Linked DNA regions of Homo sapiens: regions 1, 3, 4, 5 and 6 are each reported to be linked to region 2. Evidence: microRNA targets listed by miRTarBase, many of them from high-throughput screens and not tested one by one. Region 2 holds a microRNA gene; each other region holds the end of a gene's coding sequence.

The links. Region 2 holds the annotated microRNA hsa-miR-5693 (GCAGUGGCUCUGAAAUGAACUC, at 1,718-1,739, opposite strand). A microRNA usually pairs through its seed, bases 2 to 8, with sites in the 3' UTR of a target mRNA and lowers its output. Matches are read on the target gene's strand: a 7mer-m8 pairs with bases 2 to 8, a 7mer-A1 pairs with bases 2 to 7 and ends in A, and an 8mer does both.
Region 1: miRTarBase lists EMC2 as a target of hsa-miR-5693. Seed matches in the 3' UTR shown: 8mer at 2,700-2,707.
Region 3: the mRNA of FHL2 is a reported target of hsa-miR-5693. The part of its 3' UTR that is shown has no 7-base or 8-base seed match.
Region 4: the mRNA of TSPAN31 is a reported target of hsa-miR-5693. Seed matches in the 3' UTR shown: 7mer-A1 at 2,894-2,900 and 7mer-m8 at 886-892.
Region 5: miRTarBase lists SEC23B as a target of hsa-miR-5693. The part of its 3' UTR that is shown has no 7-base or 8-base seed match.
Region 6: miRTarBase lists ALG1 as a target of hsa-miR-5693. Seed matches in the 3' UTR shown: 7mer-m8 at 2,176-2,182.

Annotation. Positions count from the first base shown.
Region 1 is chr8:108,486,221-108,491,150 of GRCh38, reverse strand. It overlaps EMC2 (ER membrane protein complex subunit 2), which reads right to left. Exons shown (of 11, transcript NM_014673.5): 11 at 1,955-4,639. The coding sequence ends at 4,553. Among named protein-coding and RNA genes, the nearest start is that of EMC2, 45 kb to the right of the region's middle.
Region 2 is chr13:51,346,859-51,351,938 of GRCh38, forward strand. It overlaps MIR5693 (microRNA 5693), which reads right to left and starts at 1,781; the gene lies at 1,709-1,781. It overlaps SERPINE3 (serpin family E member 3), which reads left to right. Exons shown (of 10, transcript NM_001386375.1): 5 at 167-376; 6 at 1,355-1,553. It also overlaps a transcript of INTS6 not described here.
Region 3 is chr2:105,356,816-105,361,840 of GRCh38, reverse strand. FHL2 (four and a half LIM domains 2) reads left to right here. Exons shown (of 7, transcript NM_001318895.3): 7 at 407-1,015. The coding sequence ends at 558. It also overlaps a transcript of C2orf49 not described here. Among named protein-coding and RNA genes, the nearest start is that of C2orf49, 22 kb to the right of the region's middle.
Region 4 is chr12:57,746,118-57,751,002 of GRCh38, reverse strand. TSPAN31 (tetraspanin 31) reads right to left here. Exons shown (of 6, transcript NM_005981.5): 3 at 4,747-4,827; 4 at 4,283-4,414; 5 at 3,872-3,985; 6 at 784-3,787. The coding sequence ends at 3,713. CDK4 (cyclin dependent kinase 4) reads left to right here. Exons shown (of 8, transcript NM_000075.4): 4 at 1-80; 5 at 238-347; 6 at 1,499-1,549; 7 at 1,686-1,821; 8 at 2,386-3,276. The coding sequence ends at 2,478. It overlaps MIR6759 (microRNA 6759), which reads left to right and starts at 2,321; the gene lies at 2,321-2,385.
Region 5 is chr20:18,560,351-18,565,400 of GRCh38, forward strand. It overlaps SEC23B (SEC23 homolog B, COPII component), which reads left to right. Exons shown (of 20, transcript NM_006363.6): 20 at 301-1,065. The coding sequence ends at 390. Among named protein-coding and RNA genes, the nearest start is that of SMIM26, 4.6 kb to the right of the region's middle.
Region 6 is chr16:5,084,117-5,088,481 of GRCh38, forward strand. It overlaps ALG1 (ALG1 chitobiosyldiphosphodolichol beta-mannosyltransferase), which reads left to right. Exons shown (of 13, transcript NM_019109.5): 13 at 634-3,263. The coding sequence ends at 765. It overlaps EEF2KMT (eukaryotic elongation factor 2 lysine methyltransferase), which reads right to left. Exons shown (of 8, transcript NM_201400.4): 8 at 168-1,616. The coding sequence ends at 1,516. Among named protein-coding and RNA genes, the nearest start is that of EEF2KMT, 11 kb to the right of the region's middle. RefSeq lists an enhancer at 112-1,024.

The sequences.
Region 1 (4,930 bases), not on the chromosome of region 2:
TCAACAAAGAATCCTTCTGGGATTTTTATAGGACTTGTATTAAACCCATAAATCAACTTGGGGGCAACTTAGTTAATATATTGTCTTCCAATCCATATAAATGGTTATGTTTCAGACTCTTTAAGTCTAGACATTTACAATCTATTATCTCTCTGAAGACTGCTACCTGGAAGATTCATCTGCATAAAACCTTGGTTTCCACAACCCCTTATCATATCCCAGACACCAGTATCTATCAATAATAACCGACTCCCAATCAGAAAATCTTTGGATTTGTCTATGACCTGGAAGTCCCCACTTCCAGTTGTCCCACTCTCCTAAGCTAAATCAATGTACATGTTACCTGTATTGATTGATGTCTTACGTCTCTCTAGAATGTATAAAGCCAAGTTGTAACCCAATCACCTTAGGCACATGTTCTCAGGATCTCTTGAGGGCTGTGTCACAGCCCATTAGTCACTCATATTTGGCTCAAAATAAATCTCTTCAATATTTTAGAGTTTGACTCTTCATCAAGGTCCTGTAGGTGTTTTGTTGGATTTATACTTAGTATTACATTTTGAAATTGTAAATGGTATTAGCATATAGAAATACAATTTGATTTTTGTGTGGTTGATCTTGTATTCTGTGATCTTACTAAATTCACTAGTTCTTGTAAGTTCTTGGAGATTTCTTAGAACTTTGTATGTAGAAAATAATGTTAAATGCAAATATAAAGTTAATTTTTTCATTTCCAATCTCTGTGCCTTTTATCCCCTTTTCTTATATTATTGCACTGGATATCAAGTACTACACTGAATAGGAGTGGTGAGTGTGCATATCCTTATCTTGTTCCTAATCTTAAGAGGAACGCATTTAGTCTTTCATCATATATTATTTTGTAGATGCTGAATGTTTGTGGAAGAAGGAAGTATAACAACTTCATGGACTTTAAGTGTACCTGAATTCAAAGTGTGGGAAAGTGGAAGGACATCATTTACAATTAAAGAAATCTAAATTCTCTCCTTGATTCTGATACTATATAGACCCTCAAAGGCCATGTTAAGAGCCAATAAATGGAAAACAGCAAGAGTTTTAACGATGGGGGCAGAGGGGGAGGGAGCAAAATGGCATTATATTATATTCTAAATATTTTGAAATCGTTCTCATATTTACTGTAAATGAAATAACATCTTAAATAATTTAAACACAATTTAAATTAAAATATAATTTACCTTTTTATTTAATTAAAAATTGTTTTACAAATCAGAACATCTGAATTATAATCCCTGATCTGCTAACAAGCTATGATCCTTGCATATAACTGGTTCTCATTTTTGTCACTCTAAAATTAGAACATCACAAGATAGCCAGATGCAGCAGAGGATACCAGAAAAAATGCTGACTTGGAAACCCCTGACATCCTGGGTCTGGTCCATGCTCTGTAACACAAGAGGTTAATTTATCTGAACCTCAGATATCCTCATCTTAAAATGAAGTACAACAAAATCATCTCCAAAGTCCTGTCTAAAATCCTATGGTTCTATGAAATGAATTAAAATGAAGTTACTTTGATGATATGTGGGCTACAGTATATAAGACAAAAAGATTAATTGAAATATTTGTCAATAAAAAGTTGAAGTATATGCTTGCAGCATACTAAAATACTGGTCTTCCCTTTATATTTTTCTCTACATCCTCTTGTGCCCCCAAATCAGTATTATTTTTATGGTTAAGCTGTGTAAATATGTCCCCTTTTCACCTCTGTTGGCTTAGAATGCTAGGAGCTGAGCTGCACTAAGACATTACTTCTTTCGTTATATGGAATTATCTCCTTGCTTTAAATGATTAGATTCTGAAATAGCATCCCTGACATGTCTAAAATAAGAGTTTTACACTTAAAAAATGTTGAAGAGTAGATAAGCAGATATATTAGTCAGAAACATACATGGCTAAAGTAACAGGAAACCAAACAGTGTCTTAAACAATCTGGAGTTTATTTTTTCTCATTTAATAATTGGGGAGTTTGGCAATTGCTCATCTTGATTTGGGTGTTCAACAATGCCATATCAGGGACCCAGGATCCCCTTAATCCTCCTTCAGTTCTATCTCTGAAATGTAACTTTCATTCTCACATTTGCTGTTTCATGGTTGTTTGATGGCAGCTGCACCTTTAGGCATGCTGTTGGCCAGAAAGAGGAGAAAGAGGCAATGACTGTTACCACACAAAGCTCTGATTTTTTAATTTGAAAGGAAAGCCCTTCTCAGTAGGGTTCTGTTCATTTCATTCAATTTCTCAATTGCAGTAGTCACATATCAAGTACTCAATATCACATATGGTTAGTAGCTACCACAATAGAGAGACAGAATGGATGGTTGATTTCCTTCACTGCAAAAAGTTCTGCCTCGTACTAATCAGACTATACAGAATTAAACTACCACTTCTGTTTCAGATCAATGAAGGTGCAACCTCTGGAGTTGGGGTAAGGTCCTAATCTCTTTGAGGAAGAGGGATCCTTGCCACTATCAGATCAAACTAAGGTACTGCTAAAGAAGAAATAAAGGTAATAGCTGTAGGCAACTGCCTGCTGTAATGGGATTATCAGTACATTTAAGTTGAAGTTTATAAATAACTAAGGATTGGCAATGTGCTTAACAAATATAAAATCTTGGAAAGAAGTTATTAAAATTTTGAAAAAATAAAGTGATACTGGCCAGGCTCAGTGGCTCATGCCTGTAATCCCAGCATTTCGGGAGGCTGAGGCGGGTAGATCACTTGAGGCCAGGAGTTTCAGACCAGCCTGGCCAACATGGTGAAACCCCATCTCTACTAAAAATACAAAATTAGCCAGGCATGGTGGCACATGCCTGTAGTCCCAGCTACTCAGAGGCTGAGGCACAAGAATCGCTTGAACCCGGGAGGAGGTTGCAGTGAGCTGCGATCACGTCACTGCACTCCAGCCTGGGTGACAGAACGAGACTGTCTCAAAAAAAAAAAAAAAAAAGTGAAACTAAGGCAGACAGCTATAAGAGGCACTGAATTACTTATTACACAAATATAATTGCTAGAGTAAACACTAATCCAGTGACTGACGGGGAGGAGGTTTGAAGGGGAAAAGGTAGTGAAACAACGTGCAGGCACTATTTTCTTTACAGAAAATGTAAATTTCAAATGGTTCATCATGTTGAAAATGCAGTTACTAATTTCATGTGTACAAAGACGGGATCTTTGTGGTAATAAAGATTAGTAGAGAATTACCTTCAGATGAGAAGAGTTCTTTCACAGAATATATTAATCAGCTGCCTATTACTCGTGGCAGAATAAAACGAAAATGACTGTAATATGAAAGATTAGACTAGATATGGAGAATAATTTATTAGCAGAACTATTCAAAAGGTTAAAAGAAGCTGATATTGACAATACTTTTCTTTCTAAACACTTCTAGATTGTCAATTCCTCCACAATCCCCACTTGTCCAAAGCAGCAATGACAAGTCTGTAGATGCCTCTGTATATTTTTAGTAAAAATAAATTTAAATATATTTATTATAAACAAATACCATAAATATTTGCGGTGAACAGTTGCTATTTTAAAAACTGATTTGTGTCTAAATGAAATTTAACTTTCAAGTCTCTTCTATTTTGTTGAAACATGTCAAATACTGTTGAAGGTAGCATAATGGTTGTTTATTATGAAAAGAGAAAAATAAAAAATTCTAACTAAGGTAATGATAGAATAGGAAAATTTTAACATTTTTGTTTCTAAGGATAGTTTTAATTTTCTTATTTTTTTCAAAATTAAAAATAACTACAACCCCTTTAATCCCTACTCTTTATGATTCTTTAATATTCTTTCATGTAATTTACTATTAAAGGATTCAATAAATATAACTTGCATAAAAGTTAAAGTGTCGTAACACATATTTATCTTAAGGCATTTTATATGTAAAAATCTCAATTATGTCCTATATCAAAACAAAAATTTTACAAAGAAATATTGCTGAACTTTGGAGAATGACATATTTTAAGCAAGATTCATCAGAAGGATATTACAGCAGATAAAACAATTCAAATAGCCCACTGGAATGTACAGCAAAATCCAATTCGACAATATAAACAAAGTCAAAATAATCTGCTTCGGTCAGCTACATATGCTGTGACTTTGCTATCACCAGTAAGGAGTTAACTAGAAACTGAGTTCTTAAACAATATATCCACTGTGAGTATAACAAAATGAAGTTAGAATCTTCATATGCAAGTTTAATAAATCATCATGGTTTATTTAACAAGGTTATACTACATTAGAGTTTTATATATATACATGTATATGTGATATGAAGAGACTGATGTACAATCAATAAGTCTTAAATCTCTCTTCCATGGATTTCCCCCATCTCCCCACTTAGCAGTAAAAGGCATTTTTAGGTTTATATAAACACATTCTTTACAACTGCCTTCTTAACAGAAAATTACTGTAGTATATAAATAGCACTGAGCATTTAGTAAATAAGTTACAGGCCAATAAGTTCAATTGTGCAGTTGTGAAATCTAATGTCAAAGAGTTTTTGAAACCTTAAGACTGGGTGATCTGCAATGTTTCCAACATGTCTTCGACAGCCTTAAGAGAATATTTGGTTTCCTTCTTACTTCGACCTGCAAACTAATTAAAAAAAAAAAAAAAAAGCTCAATTAGGCTCAATTTCAGTGGCAGGTTAAAAATGACAATCTTCACACTGTTAATGAAACTTAACATTGACTATTTTATCACTAGTAGGAAATCAAATATATTCTTTGCTTTTTCAATAAGAATAAAATTTGAGTATTAAGGACATTTTCCTTTAAGGTCTTACCTTCAGCTGAAGTGTACAGAGAGTTCACTGCACACTTGGCCAGTTTAAGTGTTTACATAATATAATAACCCATAAAATCATGTATTTGAAACTATCTTATT
Region 2 (5,080 bases):
TTAAGTAGACTAAAAAGATATTGTAAGATGAAGAGAGAGACCACCTTAAGCAAAAAGACCTGCATTTTCGCATTTTAACTCTGCACTCCTTGTCCGCACACACACTGGGTTCGGTTCAGTTTCAATGCACATTTAACCCATGGCCACCTTGCTTTCCTGCTTGCAGGTGGGGGCCCCAGTGAGGGCCCTGGTGGCTGGCCGTGGGAGCAAGTCAGTGCAGCATTTGCTCAGCTTGTGCTTGTGAGCACCATGTCCTTCCAAGGCACTTGGCGAAAGAGATTCTCCTCCACAGACACACAGATCCTGCCTTTCACCTGTGCCTATGGCCTCGTCCTTCAGGTCCCCATGATGCACCAAACGACCGAGGTCAACTACGGTGAGCTCTGCCCCTGCTGGTTTGTCTAAAGGGAGAGGAAGCCTGGGCCTGAGGGCAGGAGAGAGGAGGCCAGGTCCCTGCTCCTAAGGGATCGGGATGTGTTTCCGCAGGGTCCATCTGCTGGACTGGGCATGCATGGCGGAAGGAAAGACTAAGGTGCCCGGAGACTTTAGAGAGGAGTGTGGGACAGTGTGCTCTGACAGGACAGTGAGGACACAGATGTGGAAGAGAAACTCAGTTTCATGCCTGACATTTCCTTCTGCACTAGTAGAGTTTGGACCAAACTGCCACCCTGGCAGGCACAATAGGCCGGGATTGAATGGCTGCTCCTTTAAGATCGGGTACAGTAGTACCCTGTACCCTTATCCATGATTTTGCTTTTTTGAGGTTTCAGTTATCCGCATCAGAAAATATTAAATGGAAAATTTCACAAATAATTCTCAAGTTTTAAACTGCACGCCCTTCTGAATAGTGTGGTGAAATTTCCTGACGTCCTTCTCTGTTCCACCTGAGATATGAACCATCCCTTTGTCCAGCATCCCCAGGCTGTCTACAGTATGCCCGTTGGTCACTTAGTAGCCATCTCAGTCATCAGATCGAGAAAACATAGTATATGCAGGGCTCGTTACCATCCACAGGTTCAGGCCTCTACTGGGGTTCTTGGAGCATATCTGCCAAGGATAAGGGGGCACTACTCTATGTGGTTCTGCATGTGCCATCGTCCCCCCCCCCATACCCAGTCCTAGAGAACCTCTAACTCTGGTCCTGTGAGGGTATCTTAAAGACTCTAGGTCTAGGATTTTTATAAAATGACCATATCGCCCAACAGTCTTTGGCCTGAAACCGCCTCCTGAGGGTGAGGTGGATGCTCGGTTTTATTGTTTCCAGTCCTCTGAGCCAGCCTCTCTCAGGGTCCGACACTGGTTCATTCTCCTGGCTCCTGGGACAGAGCTGACCTCTGATCCACTGTACCCTCAGGTCAGTTCCAGGACACTGCAGGCCATCAGGTGGGGGTGCTGGAGCTTCCTTACCTGGGAAGTGCAGTGAGTCTGTTCCTGGTGCTGCCCCGTGACAAAGACACCCCCCTGAGCCACATCGAGCCACACCTCACAGCCAGCACCATCCACCTCTGGACCACCAGCCTGAGGAGAGCCAGGATGGATGTGTTCCTGCCCAGGTGAGCAGCTGAGTCCCCCTCACAGGTGCTGTGCAGCCAGCAGTCAGAAGAGCGTGGATTTGCACACAGGTGGTCTGCCTCCAGGGTCTGTGCTTAGCCACTGGGATGACTTGTTTAATATGTATCCCCAGAAGTTAGACCAAGAGGAAGTGACCCTAGAGTTTGAGTTCATTTCAGAGCCACTGCTGGCTAGCTCACAGCACAGACTGAAATGAACTAACTTCCCAGAGTCTTTCCAAGACAAGATATTCTGCCTTCACTGGGCTGGAATGGAGCCCCCCAGGACCCCCTGATCCAGCCCTAGGCTGGACCAGTTTTTGGAAAGGAAATGCTCGTGGTTCCCTTGTAGGAACGTTGCCCAAATCTTATCCCATCCTAAGAGTATACAACTGTCATTTTTCCAAAACCAAAGAGATAAGATGACTTACGTAATTGAGCAAGTACAGATAAAATTCTGATCAGACGCCAAATTAAGGCATAAAATTTTGACACTTTAAGTCTCTGTGCAGAAGGTTCTCATTCTTTCTAAATGGAGGTGAACTCTCCTTTAAGAAGACCCAATAGGTACAAATACAAATCAAAAAGTGAAGTGGTGGCATTCTATGTTGCTTTTTCAAAACAAAATCTATTAGCAAAACTCATAACTTTACAAAAAGACTCCTCTTAGGGCTTCTTTAAATGATGAGCTTCTGTGATGTATTTGAAATCAGAGTAAATTTATAACCATTTTTTGACCAGCATTAAGCAAGGAATGTTGTCCAGTAGCCACTAGATGCCTTGGCCTCTCTCCACTGCCTGGGCTTCCAGTAGGCAAAGGCAAAGTCCTTGGCAGTACTCCCTTGAGGAGTTAAAAGTAAATCTATGCACTAGAAGGAAAAAATACAAAGAGAGACCCAGTAAGTTAAGGGCCAAGGTCTAAAGTGAGATCTGGCATAACCCAGGGCAAAAGGTGCACTTAACTCTAAGGTAAAGTGTATCTCTCAAAACTAAATATTTGGACCCCAAACCAAAACCCAAATACTGGATATTTCAACAGATCTCTCAGGGAGGGAGCAGAAGCAACCCTAATCTTCCTATTATATTTGAGAGAAACTCAGCAAGGGAAGGAAGAGCAGCGTTCCGTGTCAAAAGTAGAGAGAAAAAGGAGGCTGGTGCGAGAATTCGCCACAACCTTTTTGGGTTTAAGAGACAGATGGTGGGACTCATCCTCGAGCAGTTCTTCCCTGGAAGAGACCCCGGGGAAATTCCCAGCTCCACTGAGAACTCTCCACCGTCCTGATTCTGCTTTTAGGAGTCTCAAACCCTCAAGCAGTTTGAAAACTGAAAAACACTGGCAGGCAGGGAAGGCAAGGCAAGGCAGAAATCTTAGTAACACAACTATTAGTTAGCACTTAACCTCATTCTGATAATTTTTTTTAAATCTCCTTAAGACTACCAAGACTGCTGTCCAAGGAGGATAGAGGTTTTTAGGAAAATGAAGTTATTTCACAAGTAAAACTAACCAAGTTTTTTTTGTTTGTTTTTAAGCTAGCTTTAAATCCTTTGGGGAACAAAACAAAAAAAGTAAAAACTCTCTTAGGTCTAGATTTAGGTATAAACTTTGGATCACGGTAGACACAAAGTCAGCTTTTAGGCAGGGATTTACCTCTCATTCTCTCAAATCACTCATTCTTCTTTTAGTATGACTTGCTCTGCAGTCAGCAGGCATTTTTCGTTTAACAAGAGCAAAAAAATTTTGCACACTGTGGGTAGCAATGCAAAATTGTGTGACTATGAGATGTGCTTTCAGGTTAGACATCACCAAGCAGTGCACTAGTAGATTCTGGACGAATTATGGTGTCTAGCTTCCAAAGTAACCTTTTATTTATAAATAAATAAAAAAAGTGCATAGGGACTGTTAATCTTCATGAGGGACGCTTAGCATACTAAAGGAATAATCAAGAAAACCAAGAATGTGTTAAGGGTTGTTTATAACCACAATCATATGATGTCCCACAAGAAAGACTAATAATGCCAAATATGTATGTAATGAATAAAACATTTGATTATTAGGTCAACATAGAAGGCTGAGCATGAGCATGTTTTGATATTAGATATAATATATATCTTCTTAAAATCCACCAGATCCCACATATTCAAAATGAGTTTTGCCCTTCCTCCCAGGAGCTGCTGATTATCATGGTGTGTGGTTTATGCTTTTCTAGGAGTGTTTCTTTTTTAAAAAATCAAGATATAATTCACATATTATAAAATTCACCATTTTAAAGTACACAATTCAGAGGTTTTCAGTATGTTCACAAAGTTGTGCAACCATCACTACTAATTCCAGAACCTTTTCATCACCTCAAAAAGAAACCCCATATCCATTAGCAGTCACTCCCAGCTCCCCTCCCCACCTCCCAGCAACCTCTGATCTATTTGCTCTCAATAGATTTGCCTATTCGAGAATTTCATGTAAGTGAAATTATACAATTACATATTGTACAATTATACAATATGTGGCCTTTTGTGTCTGGCTTCTTTGCATAATATTTTCAAGGTTCATAGTAGCATGAATCAATACTATCTTCCTTTTTATGACTGAATAATATTCCATTGTATTGATATAGTACATTTTGTTTACCTATTCATCAATTTATAGATATTTGAGTGCCTAGACACATTTTGGCTTGTTTTAACTTCTTGGCCACCAGAAACAATCAAGTGCACATTTTTTTGTGTATATATATTTTCAATTATCTTGGATATACACCTAAGAATGCAATTACTAGGTCATGTGGTAACCCTACATTTTACATTTTGAAGAACTATCAAACTGTTTTCCAAGTCACTGCACCATTTTACATTCCTACCAGTAATGTGTGTGGAATCCAGTTTCTCCACATCCTTGTCAACACTTGTTAATGACCATCTTTTTATTTTAGCCATTCTAGTTGGTGTGAAGTAGTATCTCATTGTGGACTTCATTTGCATTTCCCTAATGACTAATGAGGTAGAGCATCTTTTCATGTACTTGGAGAAATGTCTTTTTTGTAGAAATGTCTATTTCAGAGGTTTTTCCCATATTTAAATTGGTTGTCTTTTTATTATTGAGTTGTAATAGTTCTTTATTCTGGATACTAGTACCTTAACAGATATATGATTTGTAAATACTTTGTCATTCTGTGGTTTTTCTTTTCACTTCTCAATGGTGTCCTTTGAAGCACAAAAGTTGTTAATTTGGATGAAGCTCAATTAATCTATGTTTTCTTTTGTTTCTTGCGCTTTCGATGCCATATTATATTGAATAGACACCACTGTCTAGTTAGGGTCACAAAAATTTAGGTGTATGTTTTTTTTCCAAGAACTTTATAGGCTTAGCTCTTACATTTAGGTCTTTAATCCATTTTGAATTAATTATTGTATATAGTATGAGGTAGGGATTCAACTTCATTCTTTTGTGTGTATCTATCCCTTTGTCCCAATATCATTTGTTAAAATGATTTTTCTTTCCTCCACTGAATTTTCTTGGCATCTTTGTCAAAATC
Region 3 (5,025 bases), not on the chromosome of region 2:
CCTCTTCTACACTCCCTTCACTGCTTCAATCATTAAGTCATAAAAATTTGAGCACCAGGCAACGTGAGGCACCTAGTGAAGACATAAGAGAAATCTGCTCCCTCTTCTCATGGAGTTTCATTTTGTGGGAAAACACATAACAAATACACAGTCAGCATTCTTTGATCGCACTTATCCCATCGTTTTGGAACCAGTTTATATATCTCTTCTGATATTCACGAGATCCTCCAGGCTGTGCATAGAATCTGATTTACATATGGATTCCCAACACCCAGTCACTAGAAATTCACATTATCCATATTACACAATCCAAACTTTGAAATGGATCAAACCAGAATTCCTTCTTCAGTCCCAGTTGCCTGATTCTAACTTTCTTCATCCGGTATTATTTTCTCTCTGTTAACAGGACTTGGTGGCACAAAATACATCTCCTTTGAGGAACGGCAGTGGCATAACGACTGCTTTAACTGTAAGAAGTGCTCCCTCTCACTGGTGGGGCGTGGCTTCCTCACAGAGAGGGACGACATCCTGTGCCCCGACTGTGGGAAAGACATCTGAATTCAACACAGAGAAGTTGCTGCTTGTGATCTCACACACAGATTTTTATGTTTTCTTTCTCACCCAGGCAATCTTGCCTTCTGGTTTCTTCCAGCCACATTGAGACTTTCTTCTAGTGCTTTTCAGTGATACTCACGTTTGCTTAAACCCTTTAGTGCTTTGTGATAGTTCAGTCCCAGGGAAAGAGAAAACTCGCCCTAGGCCCTAGGTGGGAAGATGGTTTGAAATTTTTGTAATCGAGTAAGGCACACCCAAATGTAAAAATCCTTTTGAATGATGCCTTTATAAATCTTTCTCTCACTGTCTATTTAAGTGCAATTAACATATGTCACGAACTTGAAAGTTTTCTAAACTCAATAAGGTAATGACCAGTTGTTATTTACAGCTCTGTAACCTCCCGTTGCGTCAAGTCTAAACCAAGATTATGTGACTTGCAATAAAGTTATTCAGAACAGAATCTTTTGCCAGGCACAGAGTGTGAAATCATGATTACAGGTCGAGGCACTGAGTCTAAGTAACACTTTATTGCATGGTCCCATGGTCACTGTATGAAGTGCAGTTCCAATGTTCCAATGGCCTGGGGCATTGCCAACTGGAACAGCATCACACCCTTTAAAGGAAGCCTTCGGCTGGGCACGGTGGCTCACGCCTGTAATCCCAGCACTTTGGGAGGCCAAGGCGGGTGGATCATGAGGTCAGGAGATCAAGACCATCCTGGCTAACATGGTGAAACCCCGTCTCTACGAAAAATACAAAAAATTAGCCGGGTGTGGTGGTGAGCGCCTGTAGTCCCAGCTACTCGGGAGGCTGAGGCAGGAGAATGGCATGAACCCGGGAGGCAGAGCTTGCAGTGAGCTGAGATGGCACCACTGAACTCCAGCCTGGAAGACAAAGAGACTCCGTCTCAAAAAAAAAAAGCCTTCAGTCAGCACCAGGCACCTCTTCCTTGCTACCTTCTCTCCCTTTTTTTTTTTTTTTTTTGAGACAGAGTCTCGCTCTGTCGCCCAGGCTAAAGTGCAATGGCACAATCTCAGCTCACTGCAACCTCCACTTCCCGCGTTCAAGCGATTCTCCTGCCCTCAGCCTCCTGAGTAGCTGGGATTACAGGCACCCACCATTATGCCCGGCTAATTTTTGTATTTTTAGTAGAGATGGGGTTTCACCATGTTAGGCTGGTCTTGAACTCCTGACCTCAGGTGATCCACCTGCCTCGGTCCCCCAAAGTGCTGGGATTATAGGCATGAGCCACCGCACCCAGCTACCTTCTCTGTCTTTCCCATACTCTTTCTCTTGGAATGTAATCCTCTGCATTTGACACAGTAACATAAACTGACAGTGAAGCCAATTTTCAGGTCATTTTTCTTGGCAGAGCTTATCGGCTCTGTCCCAGTGTTATGGATCCACATCTTACACCGACTTCCATAAAGTGAAAGATTGCACAAGGACATAAGCAACTTGAGGCCAGAGACGACATCCTGTTCATCTTTATGTTCTCAACACCCTCGCAACTGAGGGCACACTGGGAGCCTTCAGTGTTTCTGAAAAGGGCAGTAAAGCAGGAGAGACACACAGTCATTACAGTAAAAATAACATTCTGAGCTACTAGTGTGGCAGTAGTCTGTGGAATAATCTCAGATAGCAGTATACAGTTGGGAAGCACGGAGCCAATGTATGGGATAGAACATTGCACAGTTCTCTTTAGAATGGGAGCATCAGTGACCTTTTTGTCCTTAGTTTTCTAAGACAATGCAATATAATAAAATGATAGGCTGAGCAACAGAAAAATTTGGTGGAAATCAAGTCTGATATATGCTGAGCATATGTGAAATCAGTTTCTTAATCTGAGTGTTAGTCACTGTTAGAATGTTTGATAATGTCTGGAATGAGTCTTTTGGTTTTATAGTTGACTTGAGGTTTTGCTTAAAAAGAATAATTTCATCCTTTGTTAGTTGTTTTGCTGTTTTCTACTTCATAATATAAAAGTAAAAGCACTCCAAATTTCATTTTGGAACATCTTACTTGTTCCTCATTAAAACCATAGACTCTCCCAACCTTAAATTACCCATTCTAAAATTAATGGTTAGGGGGAATTCCACTTCTAGTAAATAGCTCCAATTGGACTAATTCTCCTCCAAATTAACAGTCATTCTGGACAAAATATTTATTTAATTGTTAAGAACACTGGAGCACGATCCAAAGCAGGCAGATATTGGAGGGCAGTAGACACTTGGAAGAAGAGAACGACACTGGGTGATTTTCCTGTTTCGGCCTTTTATCCAATGGCAGGCCCCCGCCAGGGATCTAAAACTCTGTTAGGAAACCTGCAGTCTTACTGGCCTGAGGAACCAGAGGCCAGAGTTCGGGACAAACAGCCTCTGGAAAGTGAGGAAGAAAATCCTGAAAAGGAGAGCCCCAAGTTCGTCGCATGAACTTAGAAATTTCTGGCTGACAACTGAACCGTGTATACTTAGGCCAGACTCCAAGCAGCCCAGCCAAGGCTAAAAGCATTGACTGACAGGACTTTACAGATAGTGGTTTGCAGGGCTTAGCTGACCGACCCTCTTCCTACTGAAGGAAATTACTTGTATATAAACCACACAACACAAAGTCTCTGAAAATTTCCCCAGAAGCATACAACAAATAAACATTCATTCAGGAAAATCCACTACTAAGTCTTAGAAAGAACAGTGAGTCTGTGGCATTTGAGCCACAGCCTCATCCTATCCCATCCCCACTCCCCAGCTTCATGTGACAAACTCTATTCTGGACCAATGCAGCCAAAAATTAAGGGGTCTCTCTTCCTCCAGCTACCAGTCTAGGGCTTTGCCCCAGGTGCGACAGGCTGAGAATCGTAGAGCTCCAATTGCCCCTACCCTAGCCTGCTTAGTGCGGAGGCTCCACATTGGGAGGGGCAATCTGAGAAGACCAGCGGCTATCAACCCACTCACAGAGAAGGGATGTCAGTCCTGGAGAAGCAGGCTGCTGTCCAGCCCCCAGAGGAGATCCAGGCTCTGAGACTGGTAACCCAGCAGTTATGCCCAAGGGGACTGGTATTTGGTACGGAGAACGAGAAATCTTTGCCTAAGGGGATTGTCAAAAACAATAAGACATCTTACCAGTGAGCCATTAAGGAAGGGGCTGGTAACTCCATGCTATTAGTAGCAAAAAGCAAAATGACAGACCAGCCAGAAGTTTAACACAGAAAACCAGAGAAAGAGATAGCCAAGAAGAGCCCTCCTGGAATCTGGTTTATCCTTGAGGTTCGGGAAGTATGTATGGACAGGGCTGTATCCACTCAGGAGCAATCAGATGTGAAACAAACTTGAAAGCATTCTCTAAGGCATACACAGATCCATCAGCAAAGAGCAGAAATCTTATTAGCTCAAAGTGCTTAAGCAGAACCTCTGACCAAACACTGGCTGAACACATAAATGTGTTTGTTCAAAGAACTAAAGGAAATCATATTTAAAAAAGGAAGGTAAAGGAACAATTACAGTTGTTCCTCCATATCCATGGATTCCTCATCTGTGGATTCAACCAACTGTGGATCAAAAGTATTTAGGAAAAAAAAAAAAAAGTTGACACAGTTCCAAAAAGCAAAACTTGGATCTTCCACATGCTGAGTACTATGTTGAATCCATGCAAATGAAGTGATGTGTAAGCATTGTATTAGGTATTATTATAAGTAATCTAGAGATTTATTTAAAGTATACAGAATGATGTGAATAGGTTATATGCAAATTCTATGCCATTTTATATGAGACTTGAGCATCCATGGAGTTTGGTATTTGTAGGGGGTCCTGGAATTAATCCCCCACAGATACCAAGAGATGACTTTACTCACCAAACAAACCAATAAAGAGATAAAAATTATTTTTAATAAATCAAATGGAATTCTGAAGTTGAAAAGTATACTAAATGAAATGAAAAATTCACTAGAGGGGCTCAGTAGTAGATTTGAGTTAGGAGAAGAAAACCAGTGAACTTGAAGACGGAACAACAGAAATTATACAATCTGAAAAACAGAAAAAAGAGTGAAGAGAAATTAAAAGAGCCTCAGAGAAATGTGAGAAACCATTAAGCATACCAACATATGTGTAATGGAAGGACTAGAAGGCTAGGAGAGAGAAAAAAAGAACAGGAGAAAATATTTTTTCAGAGTTCATGACTAGTCAGGTGCAGTGGCATGCGCCTGTTGTCCCAGCTACTCAGGAGGCTGAGGTGAGAGAATTGCTTGAGTCTAGGAGTTTGAGGCTGCAGTGTGAGAAAACAGCACCTGTGAACAGCCACTGCACTCCAGCCTGTACAACATAGTGAGACCTTCTTAAAAAAGAAAAAGAAAAAAAGAGTTAATGGTTGAAAAAGGCCCCAAATTTGATGAAAAATATTAATCTACATATTCAAGAAGCTCAATAAACTCAAAGTAAGATAAATGCAGAGACCATACCCAGACACATTACATTCAAA
Region 4 (4,885 bases), not on the chromosome of region 2:
TGACAAGTGGTGGAACAGTCAAGCTGGCTGACTTTGGCCTGGCCAGAATCTACAGCTACCAGATGGCACTTACACCCGTGGTCAGTAGAAAGATGGTACCAAAATGGGTTCTGGTTGGGAGTAGGAGAGTGATTGCCCGTAGCAATTGAGAAGTCATGTGCTTCATGTGTTCAGTCAAGCAAGTTGTGTTTCATGGTAACCCATGGGGTCCCCATCCATTCTTCCTATTCCCTTTAGGTTGTTACACTCTGGTACCGAGCTCCCGAAGTTCTTCTGCAGTCCACATATGCAACACCTGTGGACATGTGGAGTGTTGGCTGTATCTTTGCAGAGATGTTTCGTCGAAAGTATGGGACCCACATACCCTGGACTACCTTGAATTCCCCAAATCGCTTGTTCATAAACCACATCCATACCTTGCCCATTCTTTTTTTTTGAGACCAGGGCTTGCTGTGTTGCCCAGGCTGGATTGCAATGGCATGATCACAGCTCACTGCAGCTTCAACCTCCTGGGCTCAAGTGATCCTCCCATCTCAGCTTCCCAACTAGCTGACACTACAGGCACGCACCTCCATGCTTGGCTAGTTTGTTAATATTTTTATAGAGATGGGGTCTCAGTATATTGCCCAGGCTGGTCTTGAACTCTTGCACTCAAGCAATCCTCCCACCCCTACCTCCCAAAGTAGCATAAGCTACTGCATCTGGCCCCATTCTTTTACTTGCGTACTACTAACTTGCCCATAGCAGAAAGCTCTGAAATGTTCTGGAATTAGGAACTTCATATCCCTTTATTCTCTTTATTTTTTATTTATTTATTTATTTATTTATTTATTTATTTATTTATTTATTGAGATAAGGTTTCACTCTGTCACCCAGGCTGGAGTGCAGTGGCCCAATTACAGCTCACTGTAGCCTCTACCTCCTGGGCTAAAGCAATCCTCCCATCTCAGCCTCTTGAGTAGCTGAGACTACAGGTGCACGCCACCATGACTGGCTTTTTTTTTTTTTAGATGGAGTCTTGCTCTGTCGCCAGGCTGGAGTGCAGTAGTGCGATCTCTGCTCACTGCAACCTCCACCTCCCAGATTCAAGCAATTCTCTTGACTCAGCCTCCCAAGTAGCTGGGACCACAGGTGCACGCCACCATGCTCAGCTAATTTTTGTACTTTTAGTAATGACAGGGTTTCACCATGTTGGCCAGGATGGTCTCGATCTCTTGACCTCATGATCCACCCACATCAGACTCCCAAAGTGCTAGGATTACAGGCGTGAGCCGCTGCACCTGGCATTTCTTTTTTTTTAAAAAAAGAGACAAGGTCTTGCTTGCCCAGGCTGATCTAGAACTCCTGGGCTCAAGCAGTCCTCTCACCTCAGCATCCCAAAGTGCTGGAATTGTTGGCCTTTATTCCCTATACTTCCTATTTTGAGCCACTAAGCAGTAACCATTCAACTAAGATATCTTTGAAAATGACTGCTACCTTATATCCCTTCTCACCTTAGGCCTCTCTTCTGTGGAAACTCTGAAGCCGACCAGTTGGGCAAAATCTTTGAGTAAGTGACCAACATGGGAGAAAAAGATTTTCTATTCTGAGTCCTCTTTCTGCTGAACCCAGGATGGCAACTGGCTCTGCCCATGGGGATGGGAACTGGAGGACCCTCCTGACCAGAGTTCTCCTGTCCCCCACAGCCTGATTGGGCTGCCTCCAGAGGATGACTGGCCTCGAGATGTATCCCTGCCCCGTGGAGCCTTTCCCCCCAGAGGGCCCCGCCCAGTGCAGTCGGTGGTACCTGAGATGGAGGAGTCGGGAGCACAGCTGCTGCTGGTACTGGAGATGGCTGTGGGCACAGGGAAAGAAATAGAGACTGGGGAAAGAAATAGAGCAGTATGCAGGGCCCTGGCCACTGTGGTTAATGAAACTTGGTTGGTAGATGGGCTGTAGTTTTTATTACAGCTGCAAATAGCCACCCACAGAGAAGGATATAGAAGAGAACCCATCCTGGCTGGGCACGGTGGCTCACGCCTGTAATCCCAGCACTTTGGGAGGCCAAGGTGGGCGTATCACCTGAGGTCAGGAGTTCGAGACCAGCCTGGCCAACATGGTGAAACCTCGTCTCTACTAAAAGTACAAAAATAAGCCGGGGGTGGTGGCACACGCCTGTAATCTCAGCTACTTGGGAGGCTGAGATAGGAGAATCACTTCAACTCAGGAGGCGGAGGTTGCAGTGAGCTGAGATCATACCATTGCACTCCAGCCTGGGTGATAGAGCGAGACTCCGTCTCAAAAAAAAAAAAAAAGAAAAAAGAAGAAAGCTCATCCCAGGTATTGTTGTGGGTGGGCAGAAGTCTGTTTTCTTCATGGTTTTCTGACCTTTGCCTCTCCCCTCAGGAAATGCTGACTTTTAACCCACACAAGCGAATCTCTGCCTTTCGAGCTCTGCAGCACTCTTATCTACATAAGGATGAAGGTAATCCGGAGTGAGCAATGGAGTGGCTGCCATGGAAGGAAGAAAAGCTGCCATTTCCCTTCTGGACACTGAGAGGGCAATCTTTGCCTTTATCTCTGAGGCTATGGAGGGTCCTCCTCCATCTTTCTACAGAGATTACTTTGCTGCCTTAATGACATTCCCCTCCCACCTCTCCTTTTGAGGCTTCTCCTTCTCCTTCCCATTTCTCTACACTAAGGGGTATGTTCCCTCTTGTCCCTTTCCCTACCTTTATATTTGGGGTCCTTTTTTATACAGGAAAAACAAAACAAAGAAATAATGGTCTTTTTTTTTTTTTTAATGTTTCTTCCTCTGTTTGGCTTTGCCATTGTGCGATTTGGAAAAACCACTTGGAAGAAGGGACTTTCCTGCAAAACCTTAAAGACTGGTTAAATTACAGGGCCTAGGAAGTCAGTGGAGCCCCTTGACTGACAAAGCTTAGAAAGGAACTGAAATTGCTTCTTTGAATATGGATTTTAGGCGGGGCGTGGTGGCTCACGCCTATAATCCCAGCACGTTGGGAGGCCAACGCGGGTGGATCACCTGAGGTCAGGAGTTCGAGACCAGCCTGACTAACATGGTGAAACCCTGTCTCTACTAAAAATACAAAATTAGTCAGGCGTGGTGGTGCACACCTGTAATCCCAGCTACTTGGGAGACTGAGGCAGGAGGATCGCTTGAACCCGGGAGGCAGAGGTTGCGGTGAGCCGAGATCATGCCATTGCACTCCAGCCTGGGCAACAGAGCAAGACTCTGTGTCAAAAAAAAAAAAAGAATATAGATTTTTAAATGGCTTTTACTTTTATATTCGCTAAACTTTCTCAAACTGGATCCTGCTTATTACAGGAAAGAGTTCTTGGTTGTTTTCTCCTTGGCCCTATCCCTGATTTACCCTTAGAGCCACACCAGGGTATGTTGAGGTGATCCAGTATATGGACAGAGGAAGGGAAACAGCTAAGAATGACTCCAGCCCCCATCCTATGCACTCACAGAAGCTTCCCATATCCTCTTGGAGAGAGAGGAAGAAAGTTTTTCCTTTTATTCCTTATAGTCTGGCTCCCACTAAAATATGTCAAGGCATAAAGTCTTGCTATTCCATCAATTTTAGAGGATGTGACAAGGGGCCTTTCCTTTTTCTCAAACCAAAACGGTTACAGACCCTAGATATTCCCTAAGGGAGGAAGAGAAAGCTTAGAGAGAGCAGAAGAAAAGTCAGAAGGATCCAAAGTCTCATAGAAAGGCACTGGGGTTGGCTCTAGGATCCTTCTGATTCCGAAATCTCATTGCTAGCCAAACACCAAGGATCTGTAGGAACAAAGGGAGAGAGATAAGTATCAATTAATTCTCAGTCTCAAAAAGGATGTGTGTGAGGGAACTGGAGAATGTTACCTCTGTAAAGCTAAAGAAGAGTCCAACACCCCCTAGGATTTTCAGGGCTTCGTCTGAATGCTTAAGAAACTTTTCTCCACACATCTGGCATGTGGGGCTCTGGCTCTTGCAGATCTGAGGATAAAACGTGAAGAATGCAAAGTTGTGAATGTAAAGTTGCTAGTGACTAATACCTATGCCGAATGTCCCTAGAAACTTTACTGTTATCTGACCAGTGTCCTACAAACTAAAATCCTACTTGGCTAATTCCCCAGCCTCTATCCACCCCCACCTCCCACCAACACAGCCCCAATACAAGAGGGCTTGTAGAGAGAGAAACAATGACATTCAAACTAAATTTGCCAACTTGGGCATTGTCCTTACCCAGTTTCCTACCTCCCCTGGCTGCTGCACCACCCCCAACACACTCACTGCAGTGCAGAAATCATAATCTTGTTGATACAGGGTTGTGAGGTTGAATAAGCCACAACAATCAAAACTTCTTTCCAGTTCATCCCGAGTCTTGTTGCTCATGACCCACCAAGAAGCATTGATGACATCTGTCTGAAAGATATGGGTAGAGGGAAATTAAGTCTCCCTACATCCTGTTATCAGTTCAAGTGCCTCAATTTCCCTAGCCCAGCAAAGGAAGTCAAACAGAAGCATAACGGTGTGCAACAATTATAGACACGATAAATATCTACCTTTTGAGGTTCTCTAGATCATCCTCATGGAAAATTAACCAGACATCCCAGAGGAAGCAAATAGCCCAAGAGGCCAGAAGCAGTGCACCTAAGGATGATCTTTGGGTAGTTGGGGCCAGACTAAGGAAGGAGTTCGAGGTTAAGAGGAAAATTTTAAAAAGCAAGTAAGTACTTGAAAGGGTACTGTCTTACCTGTTTGCTTCGGTTAATAGCCAGACATGAGCAAGAGATTACAAATTGGAAGATGAAGACCAAACCAAGGATGATCATGTACTGAGAGGAAAGGTTATGGAAAAAAGTCCTAGATTCCTTTATGTTTCATCTATAATAA
Region 5 (5,050 bases), not on the chromosome of region 2:
TGGGGAGCTAGACCCTGGGTACTTCATCAGGACTATGGAGAAGAGGGTAAAGTAAAACGCCTGATGCTCAAAACTAGCAGGCGGTGGTGGCCTGATCTCGGCATACCAGGAAAGGATTTTGTGAGGAAATTGTGCTTTAGTCAAAAGAAGTTGTTCGTGAGGCAGAGGATGGGGTGATGGGAGTACTCGTAGCAGAGGGGACAACACCTGTGAATGTTCTGAGGGAAGGTGCTTGACAGCTCATGAATTCTAATCAGCTTCTAAGATATCTGCCAACTAATCTTTATCATTACATTTCAGGAAACTGGAGCACCCATCCTAACTGATGATGTTAGCCTGCAGGTGTTCATGGACCATTTGAAGAAGCTGGCTGTCTCCAGTGCCTGTTAAGCTGAGGATACAACCAGGAAATGCAACGGTGTCAGATTGTGTTCAAAATGTCTAGAAAGGCTTGATAACATTCCTGTTACTTTTCTAGCAGATTTTAACAAATAATCAAGGACATTTTATATGTAACTCTTTAGATTATAATTTATTTGTATTCCTGTCTTTGTCCTTTTTCTTGCACTATAAAATTATAAGGTCATAAATGTTTTGGTACTTGTAGATGTTTATGTGCTTTTTGTATCCTAACTTTTAGAATCTAAATAAAATCAGAGGTAATGTATTTTGGCAGCTTGTTTAGGTGAGAATCTTAATGATCATAAAGGAAATAAATCTAGATGCAGAAAGTACTGGCTAAAATATTGCTAATACAAATGTGATTTCCTGAGGTCTCTGTGTGAGTGTGTATGTGTTTTAAGTGACTTCCTTAAGAGGTGTTTCCTGAACCTAATTCTCATAATTAAAGTAATGTATATGCAGGATCAAAATGAAACAAATATACCTTATCCTAAAGAGCTCATAACAAATAAGTTACCTCCACTCTATAAACTCAGACCTACTTTTTGAAGATAACTGCTTTTAACCTCTCCTTACAAGATTTTTGTTGTTGATGTATTTAATTTTAGCCCATGTCTCAATTCTCATTTTCAAAGAATCAATATATTAATATACCTTTGGTCATTTTTGTATTTTTATTTTTATATTATCAAGATTGGTAAAATGTATATTCTGGGTCAGATACAGTGGCTCACACCTGTAATCCCAGTGCTAAATTTAGGAGGCCAATGCAGGAGACTCACTTGAGGCCAGGAGTTTAAGACCAGCCTGGGCAACATAGCGAGACTGTCTCTACAAAAAATTTTAAAAGTTACTGGGCCATGGTGGTGTGTGACTGTAGTCCTAGCTACTTGGGAGGCTAAGGCAGGAGGATCACTTGAGCCCAGGAGTTCAAGGTTGCAGTGGGCTCTCATCATGCCACTGCACTCCAGCCTGGGTGGGAGAGCAAGACCCTGTTTCAGGAAAAAAAAGAGATTATATTCTGGCCTATTATCATATTTTTTGTCACTAAGTTGATTGTCAAAGCTGAAAGCTCCTAAGAAGCATTTACACAGCCGTGATGATGTAAATATTGTTCCAGTCCAAGCCAGGTAGGATGACATTTTTCTCTAGGGTGCTAGTGTCCCAGTCAGTCCCTATGTCACTTGTAGGAAAACATTCCAAAGGACAGAATCAGAGTTACTTTCTTACATTCCATCATGCCGCATGTTGGTTTGATCCCTATTTGGATTATGATTTCTTAGATTTGCTGTGGTTTTCCCCAGAATTTCTAAATTTTGTTTGCTTTCTGAGAGAAGAAATATTTTGCTTTCTATTTACTAAGAAATTCTAGCCTATTCTACTGAATGAAGTCCATTTTTTTCTTCTTTGGAGGCCACTGATGTCCCCTTTTAAGGGGGGCCAATAACTTTGACCTACTGCACAACTGTCATCCAGGAATTTCTTCTGTTTGGAATCTCGGGTTAGTTCCACTCTTCCCTTTATTCCATAAGGCATTTTGCAATCTCAAATGACTTTTACTAAAAGGAGTACTTGGGGAGAACTCACTGCATCTTAGCATATCTGCAAATCTATTCTGTCTTCACACTTTATAGCTTTGCCAGGTAATATAGTTTGGATATTTGTCCCCTCCAAGTCCGTCATTGAAATGTAATCCCCAGGATTGGAGGTGGGGCCTGGTAGGAGGAGTTTGGGTCATACCGCTGGATCCTTCATGAATGGCTTGGTGCCATCCTCACAGAAATGAGTGAGTTCTTGTCCTGGGTTCAAATGAGGTATGATTGTTTAAAAGTGTGTTGGCTGGGCACAGTGGCTCATGCCTATAATCCCAGCACTTAGGGAGGCTGAGGCGGGCAGATCACCTGAGGTCAGGAGTTTGAGACCAGCCTGGCCAACATGGTGAAACCCCATCTCTACTAAAAATACAAAAATTAGCCGGGTGTGGTGGCTTGCGCCTGTAATCCCAGCTACTCAGGAGGCCGAGGCATGAGAATGGCTTGAACCCAGGAGGCAGAGGTTGCAGTGAGCCGAGATCGCACCACTGCACTCCCTGGGGGACAGAGCGAGACTGTCTCAAAAAAAATTTTTTTAAAGTGTTACCTCCCCCACCTCTTCCTCTCGTTCTTGCCATGTGGTACATCGGGCTACCTCTTCACCTTCTGCCCTGATTGTAAGCTTCCTGAGGCCTTCACCAGAAGCAGATGCTGGCACCATGCGTCCTGTACAGCCTACAGAACCGTAAGCCATAAGCATAAACCGTAAACCTCTTTTTAAAATAAATTACCCAGTCTCGGGTGTTCCATTACAGAGATCCAAAGACAGACTAACCCACTGGGTCTAAAAAGTATAGGCCCAAGATAATCTCAGAACTTTGGAGTCATTCTTTCATTCGTTCAACAAATAACTATCCGGTACTTGTTGTCTATGGAGTAGTCTTCTAGGCATTGGGAATACTGCCAATAAAACAAAAATTCCTGTTTTCATAGAGCTTATGTGTTAGTTAGGGAAGACCAACAATAACAATGTTAGAAGTAAATGATATGGCCGGGCGTGGTGGCTCATGCCTGTAATCCCAGCACTTTGGGAGGCCGAAGTGGGCGGATCACCTGAGGTCAGGAGTTTGAGACCAGCCTGGCCAACATGGCGAAACCCTTTCTCTATTAAAAATACAAAAATTAGCCAGGCATGGTGGTGCACACCTGTAATCCCAGCTACTTGGGAGGCTGAGGCAGGGACAAATTGTTTGAACCCAGGAGATGGAGGTTGCAGTGAGATTGTGCCACTGCACTCCAGCCTGGGCAACAGAACGAGACTCCGTCTCAAAAAAATAAAAAACAAAAAAGAAATGAAGTAAATGATACATTAGAAGGTAATGAGTGCTATGTAGGAAAATGAAGCTGGAAGCTCCTATTAATTGGATGTTGGAACAGCTGGATTGATTGCAATACTCTGTTTTGAATTTGTATTCGAATACAAGTTATTGTATTTCTTTTTGTCTCTGCCCTACATTCTAGCAGAATTCTAGCAGAGTTTCCTATCTTAAAATGTTGAACATTGGCCAGGTGCGGTGGCTCACACCTGTAATCCTAGCACTTTGGGAGGCTGAGGTGGGCAGATCACTTGAGGTCAGGAGTTCAAAACCAGCCTGGCCAACATGGTGAAACCCCATCTCTACTAAAAATATTAAAAAATTAGCCAGGAGTGGTGGTGGGCACCTGTAATCCCAGCTACTTGGGAAGCTGAGGCAGGAGAATCACTTGAACCTCGGAGGTGGAGGTTGCAGTGAGCTGAGGTCACGCCACTATACTCCAGCCTGGGTGACAGAGGGAGACTTCATCTCAAAAAAAAAAAAAAAAAAAAAAGTTGAACATTTACATTTTTCTGTGCGTTTTCCAAGAATATTTTTAGTTTTGGATATAATTTTTAACACATCATATAGAAGAATACATAAAGTTGTCTGTACAGATTAAGGCCAAAACATCCTCTTTGGCTTTTCTGTTTCAAATTAACAGAAAAAAGACTGTGTGATAGACCCAGCTAACTCTGCGGTTCTCTCTAGTGTCAGTGAGTTAAGGAGCTGAGGGAACTGCATGGTATGACATGGCCATGCAGGTCCCACCTTAGGGTACCAGTGACGTTTTTCCACAGAATGTAGGGGGTGGCAGGGTGATAGTGCTGTGTGGAAAACAGCTATCATGAGAAGGGGCCACTGAGCCCAGTATGCCCAGTGAGGACTCTGAACTCCATCTTTTTATTAATTGTTAATTTTTGTGGGTATTGAACTCCATCTTGAAGGTAGGGCAAGCCTCTGACTTATCTTAGGCAGAGGGTGAAATGATAATTTAAGGTTTGAAAGACACTCCAGAGGGGGAAGGATGAGAGGAGACTGTAATCCAAGTGAGAAATGAGGCCTAAACAGAGACAGGGTATTTAGACAGAGGTGACAGAGGATGTCAGGTGAGATGATTCCAAGTTCCTGGCTTGGGCAATTTCTCAATCACTCTCTGAATCAGGGAAGAGAAAGGGAAGGTTTGTTTCCTGTTGGGAGTGGCATTGATAAATTCAATTCGGAACATTTTTTTAGTTTCAGGAGCTTGTGGAATATGCAGCCGAGGATGCATAGCAGGTTGGCAGTAACATGAATTTGCTTTCAGAGAATCTGGAGTAGATTTGAGAGTTATTAACATATAACATAGGTATCATGAGTAAGGCTGATGAGAAGGATGAGAAGAGACGCAAGCTTGAAACAATACCAATTTTTCTGTTTTGTCTATAACTATTGAGCTATAGTTCACATATAATAAACTGCACCCATTTAAAGCATACAATTGGATAAATCTTGACAGAAACCACCACAATAATCAACATACAGAACATTACCATCACCTCTCAAAGTCTCCTCAGACCCTTTTAGCCCTTCCCTCTCTCCATGCCCTTACTGCAGACAACTACTCATCAGCTTTCTCCCACTGGAGTTTGCTTCTAGAATTTCGTGACTGGTTTCTTTGGTGTCTAGCTTGCTTTTTCACTTAGCATAATCCATTTTGAGATTCATCGTATGGTTGTATTTATCAGTAGTTCTTTTTTTTTTTTTTTTTTTTTTTTTTTG
Region 6 (4,365 bases), not on the chromosome of region 2:
AAGGTTACTTGTTTCTTATTGCAAAAAGTAATACATCATTCTTGCCAACAGAATGATTGGCAGGATTTTCAGTAAAGGTCCAGGTCGGAAGTCGTTTAGACTGGGTTCCCCAGTCTCTGTCAGAACCATGGTACTCTGTTGGGGTGTGAAAGTAGCCACAGATCATCTGTAGATTAAGGGGTGTGGCTTTGTTCCAATAAAACTTTATTTACAAACACAGGCTGTGGGCTGGATTTGGCCTGCAGGCTGTAGTTTGTGATCCTTGATTCAGACAGTTTAGCAAGGCTGCAAAGAACACCGACACCCCCTTGTTACCCACAGATGGGTGAGACTGCGTTGGCCAGAGGCCGAGAGGAGGGTGCTCACAGGGGAATGGGCAGCACGTAGAGGCCGGGAGGTGCTCCAGGGCACCAAGTGTGGGAAAGTGGGACATGCGGGGAAGTTTCCAGAAACTGTGATGTCAAGTTGGAGGCGGAGTGCTGCTGGGGTGTGAAGGGTCTCGAGTCCAAGTGAGGGAGTTAGGGACTTGGGAGGGGTTGTTGTTGGGTCGGGGACCTGGGGTCAGCCAGGTGGTGACCTGGGATGGGGTGGGGACAGGCAATGAGGTAAGCTCTGCTCTTTATTTTTTTGCAGATGCTTTTCTCAAACTTTCCTGATCCTGCGGGCAAGCTAAACCAGTTCCGGAAGAACCTGCGGGAGTCGCAGCAGCTCCGATGGGATGAGAGCTGGGTGCAGACTGTGCTCCCTTTGGTTATGGACACATAACTCCTGGGCCAGAGGCTAAAACCCCAGGACCCCTGCTGTCCTTCCCGCAGCTTCTTCTTGGAGTCTCAGGGCAAACCCTTTCGAGCAGCACCTCCCAGTGGCCAGAAGCTGAAATGACAGCAGTGGTACTGCCTGGTAAAAGAATTGGTTCTGTGACCCGGGAAGCTTTGGTTGGCCTTGATTTCTTCTCTGGAGGCTTGGAAACGCTTCCTCTCTTCTTCTGTTCTTCACGCCCCATGCCCCTGCTAGCGTATTACTGTTCTGTGACTTCCCTGTGACCTCTGCAGAACTCCTCATCCTGCGTTTGGTCTCCAGGTGTCCCCTTTCTGCCGTGTTCCTAACATTTTGATTCCTGTCTTGAAAAAAGCACCTGCTGCACCGTAAGCCCAGGGATGTGGCAGCTGCAGTGGGCTTGGCTTTGTGAGGAACTGAGTGTGTCCACGTTGGGGGAACATCATACTTGATACACACGTTTTTATTTGCACAAAGAAAATGCTATTTTTGGAGCCAGAATTTTCATGTCTGATTTATGGTGATTTTCTTAAGAACCAGAACTGCTGGCAGAAAGGGGGCACCCACACGCTTAGATAGCCGATGTCTTATTAGAGGGCAGTTTGTGGTTCCTGATTTGGAAATTAACATTCTCCAAACATTCCAGTCCAATGAAAGTTTTATCCGCTTTCCCATATAAAAATTCTTCCCATGAGAGTGACTTGATTCTCACAATCCCGTTGGAGTCGTGTGTGAGTCCTACAGGGTGAGATTCAGCATTGCCATCTCCAAGTGCTCTTCGTAGGGAAACAGTTTCTGCTCATGACGAGGTTCCACTTCCCATCTGATCCCGGCCCGGCCTGGAAACAGAGCACATGTGTTTGAGGATGGCGGTGTTTGGGGACAGGACATGAGGGTATTGTGTGGGGCTGCTAGGACAGGCCTGGCGGGGTAGGGGGGTGTCCAAGTCAGTTTACTTGGTTCACAGGTTCCCAGGCCCACCCAGGTGCCTAGAATTGGCCTCCAGGATGGGACCAGAAAGCTGGTTTTGCATAGAAATGGCTAGCAGCAGGCACCGTGCCGCTGTCCACTCTCTGCCTGTGTCTGCCCCAGCACTTGGCACAGCGGGACAGAAGCAGAGATCTGAATAGTCAACCCACTCTTCACAAAGCTTAGAAAGCGGCCGGGCACAGTGGCTCATGCCTGTAATCCCAACACTTTGGGAGGCCAAGGCGGGCGGATCACTTGAGGTCAGGAGTTCGAGACCAGCCTGGCCAACATGGTGAAATCCCATCTCTACAAAAATACAGAAATTAGCCAGGCATGATGGCGAGTGCCTGTAATCCCAGCTACTTGGGAGGCTGAGGTGGGAGAATTGCTTGAACCCAGGAGGTGGAGGTTGCAGTGAGCTGAGATTGTGCCACTGCACTCCAGCCTGAGTGACAGGGTGAGACTAAGTCTCAAAAAAAAAAAAAAAAAACCACACGCACCACACACACACCCACACACACACACAGCTTAGAAGGGGCTGCTGTTCTCATAAGCACAGATGTCTGAAGAGCCGTTAGCCAGAATGATTCTTTTTTTTTGTTTTGAGATATGATCTTGTTCTGTCACCCAGGCTGGAGTGCAGTGGCACAGTCATTGCTCACTACAGCCTCGACTCCTGGGCTCTAGCAATCCTCCCACTTCCTGAGTAGCTGGGATGACAGGTGCGTGCCACCATGCCAGTAATTTTTTTATTTTGTAGAGATGGGGTCCTGAACGCATGGCCTCAAGTGATGCTCCTGCCTCAGCCTCTTTTATTATTTGTTTTTAGACGAAGTTTTACTCTGTTCCCCAGGCTGGAGTGCAGTGGCACAATCTCAGCTCACTGCAACGCCTCCCAGGTTCAAGTGATTCTCCTGCCTCAGTCTCCCGAGTAGCTTTGACTATAGGCGTGCACCACCACGCCTGGCTAATTTTTGTGTTTTTAGTAGAGATGGGGTTTCACCATGTGGGCCAGGCTGGTCTTGAACTCGACCTCCCGTGATCTGCTCACCTCAGCCTCCCAAAGCCTCAGCCTCTTACAGTGTTGGGATTACAGGCGTGAGACACTGTGACCCGGGACGATTTTCAATCACAGTTTTTTGTTACGAGTGGAAAATGCGTATTTATAAGAATGAAGTAGTACAGACATGAATGTGTAGAAATCTCTATAATCCTGCCATCCAAGGATGGCACCTGTTAATGTGTATATCAGGGATGTCCAATCTTTTGGCCTCCCTGTGCCACACTGGAAGAAGAAGAATCGCCTTGGGCCACGCATAAAATACACTAACACTAGCAATACCTGATGAGCTAAAAGAAAAAAAATCACAAAAAAACCTCGTACTGTTTGAAGAAAGTTTACAGATTTGCGTTGGGCCGCAAGTTGGACAAGACTGCTATATGTATATTCTAGGTTTTCCCCTATAGGTATACTTATGTGAAAATGATTATTGTGATAAATTTTGTTTTGAGATGAAGTCTCGCTATGTTGCTCAAGGTGGCCACAAACTCCTGGGCTTAAGCCATCCTCCCGCGTCAGCCTCCTGAGGAGTTGGGAATATAGGTACTCATAACCATGTGTGGGTGATTATTATTAGTTTTTAAACAAAAATGGGGTTGGGCGCAGTAGCTCACGCCCGTATTCCTAACACTTTGGGAGGCTGAGGCGGCAGATCACTTGAGGTCAGGAGTTCAAGACCAGCCTGGCCAACATGGCGAAACCTCAACTCTACAAACAATACAAAAAATAGCCAGGTGTGGTAGCACGTGCCTGTAGTCCCAGCTACTCAGGAGGCTGAGATGGGAGGATAGCTTGAACCTGGGAGGTGGGAGGTTGCAGTGGGCCGAGATGGCACCACTGCACTCCAGCCTGGGCAATACAAAGCCAGACTCTGTCTCAAAAAAAAAAAAAAAAAAAAAGGTGGGTGGGGGCTTATACTATGTGTGCTGCTTGGCACTGTTTTTTTCACTTAAAATATATTGCAGGTTTTTTTTCACGTAAGTATCTGAAGAAAGACTTCCTTTTTTTTTTTTTATTTTTTATTTCTTTGCTTTTTTGAGACAGGGTCTTGCTCTGTTGCCCAGGCTGGAGTGCAGTGGTGAGATCAGGGCTCACTGCAGCCTCCATCTCCTGGGCTCAAGCCATCCTCCCACCTCAGCCTCCTGAGTAGCTGGGACTACAGGCGTGTGCAACCACATCTGGCTAGCTTCTGTATGTTTTGTGAAGATGGGGTCCCACTATGTGGCCCAGGTTGGTCTTGAACACCTGGGGTCAAGTAGTCCTCTTGCCTTAGCCTCCTAAAGTGCTGGGATGACAGGCCTGAGCCCTGCGCCCGGCCAGCCTCCTGTGCGAGGTTGTGGGGGGACTCTGTCGTGGAACCCAGTACGTCTTCGTGTGCTGGCTTGTTTGTTGGCTCTGTAGTTAACGGGCTGCCCCACGTGGACAGGCACTGGGTTGTCTGTGTCTCTGTGTGCAGGCAGAGGCTGCTGCATGTGCATCTGTGCACATGGCTGCCAGGAGGGGCTGTGCTCAGGGGGAGCTGGGGCAAAGGCTGGTGGCACTGGGGGGCTTGGGTGTAG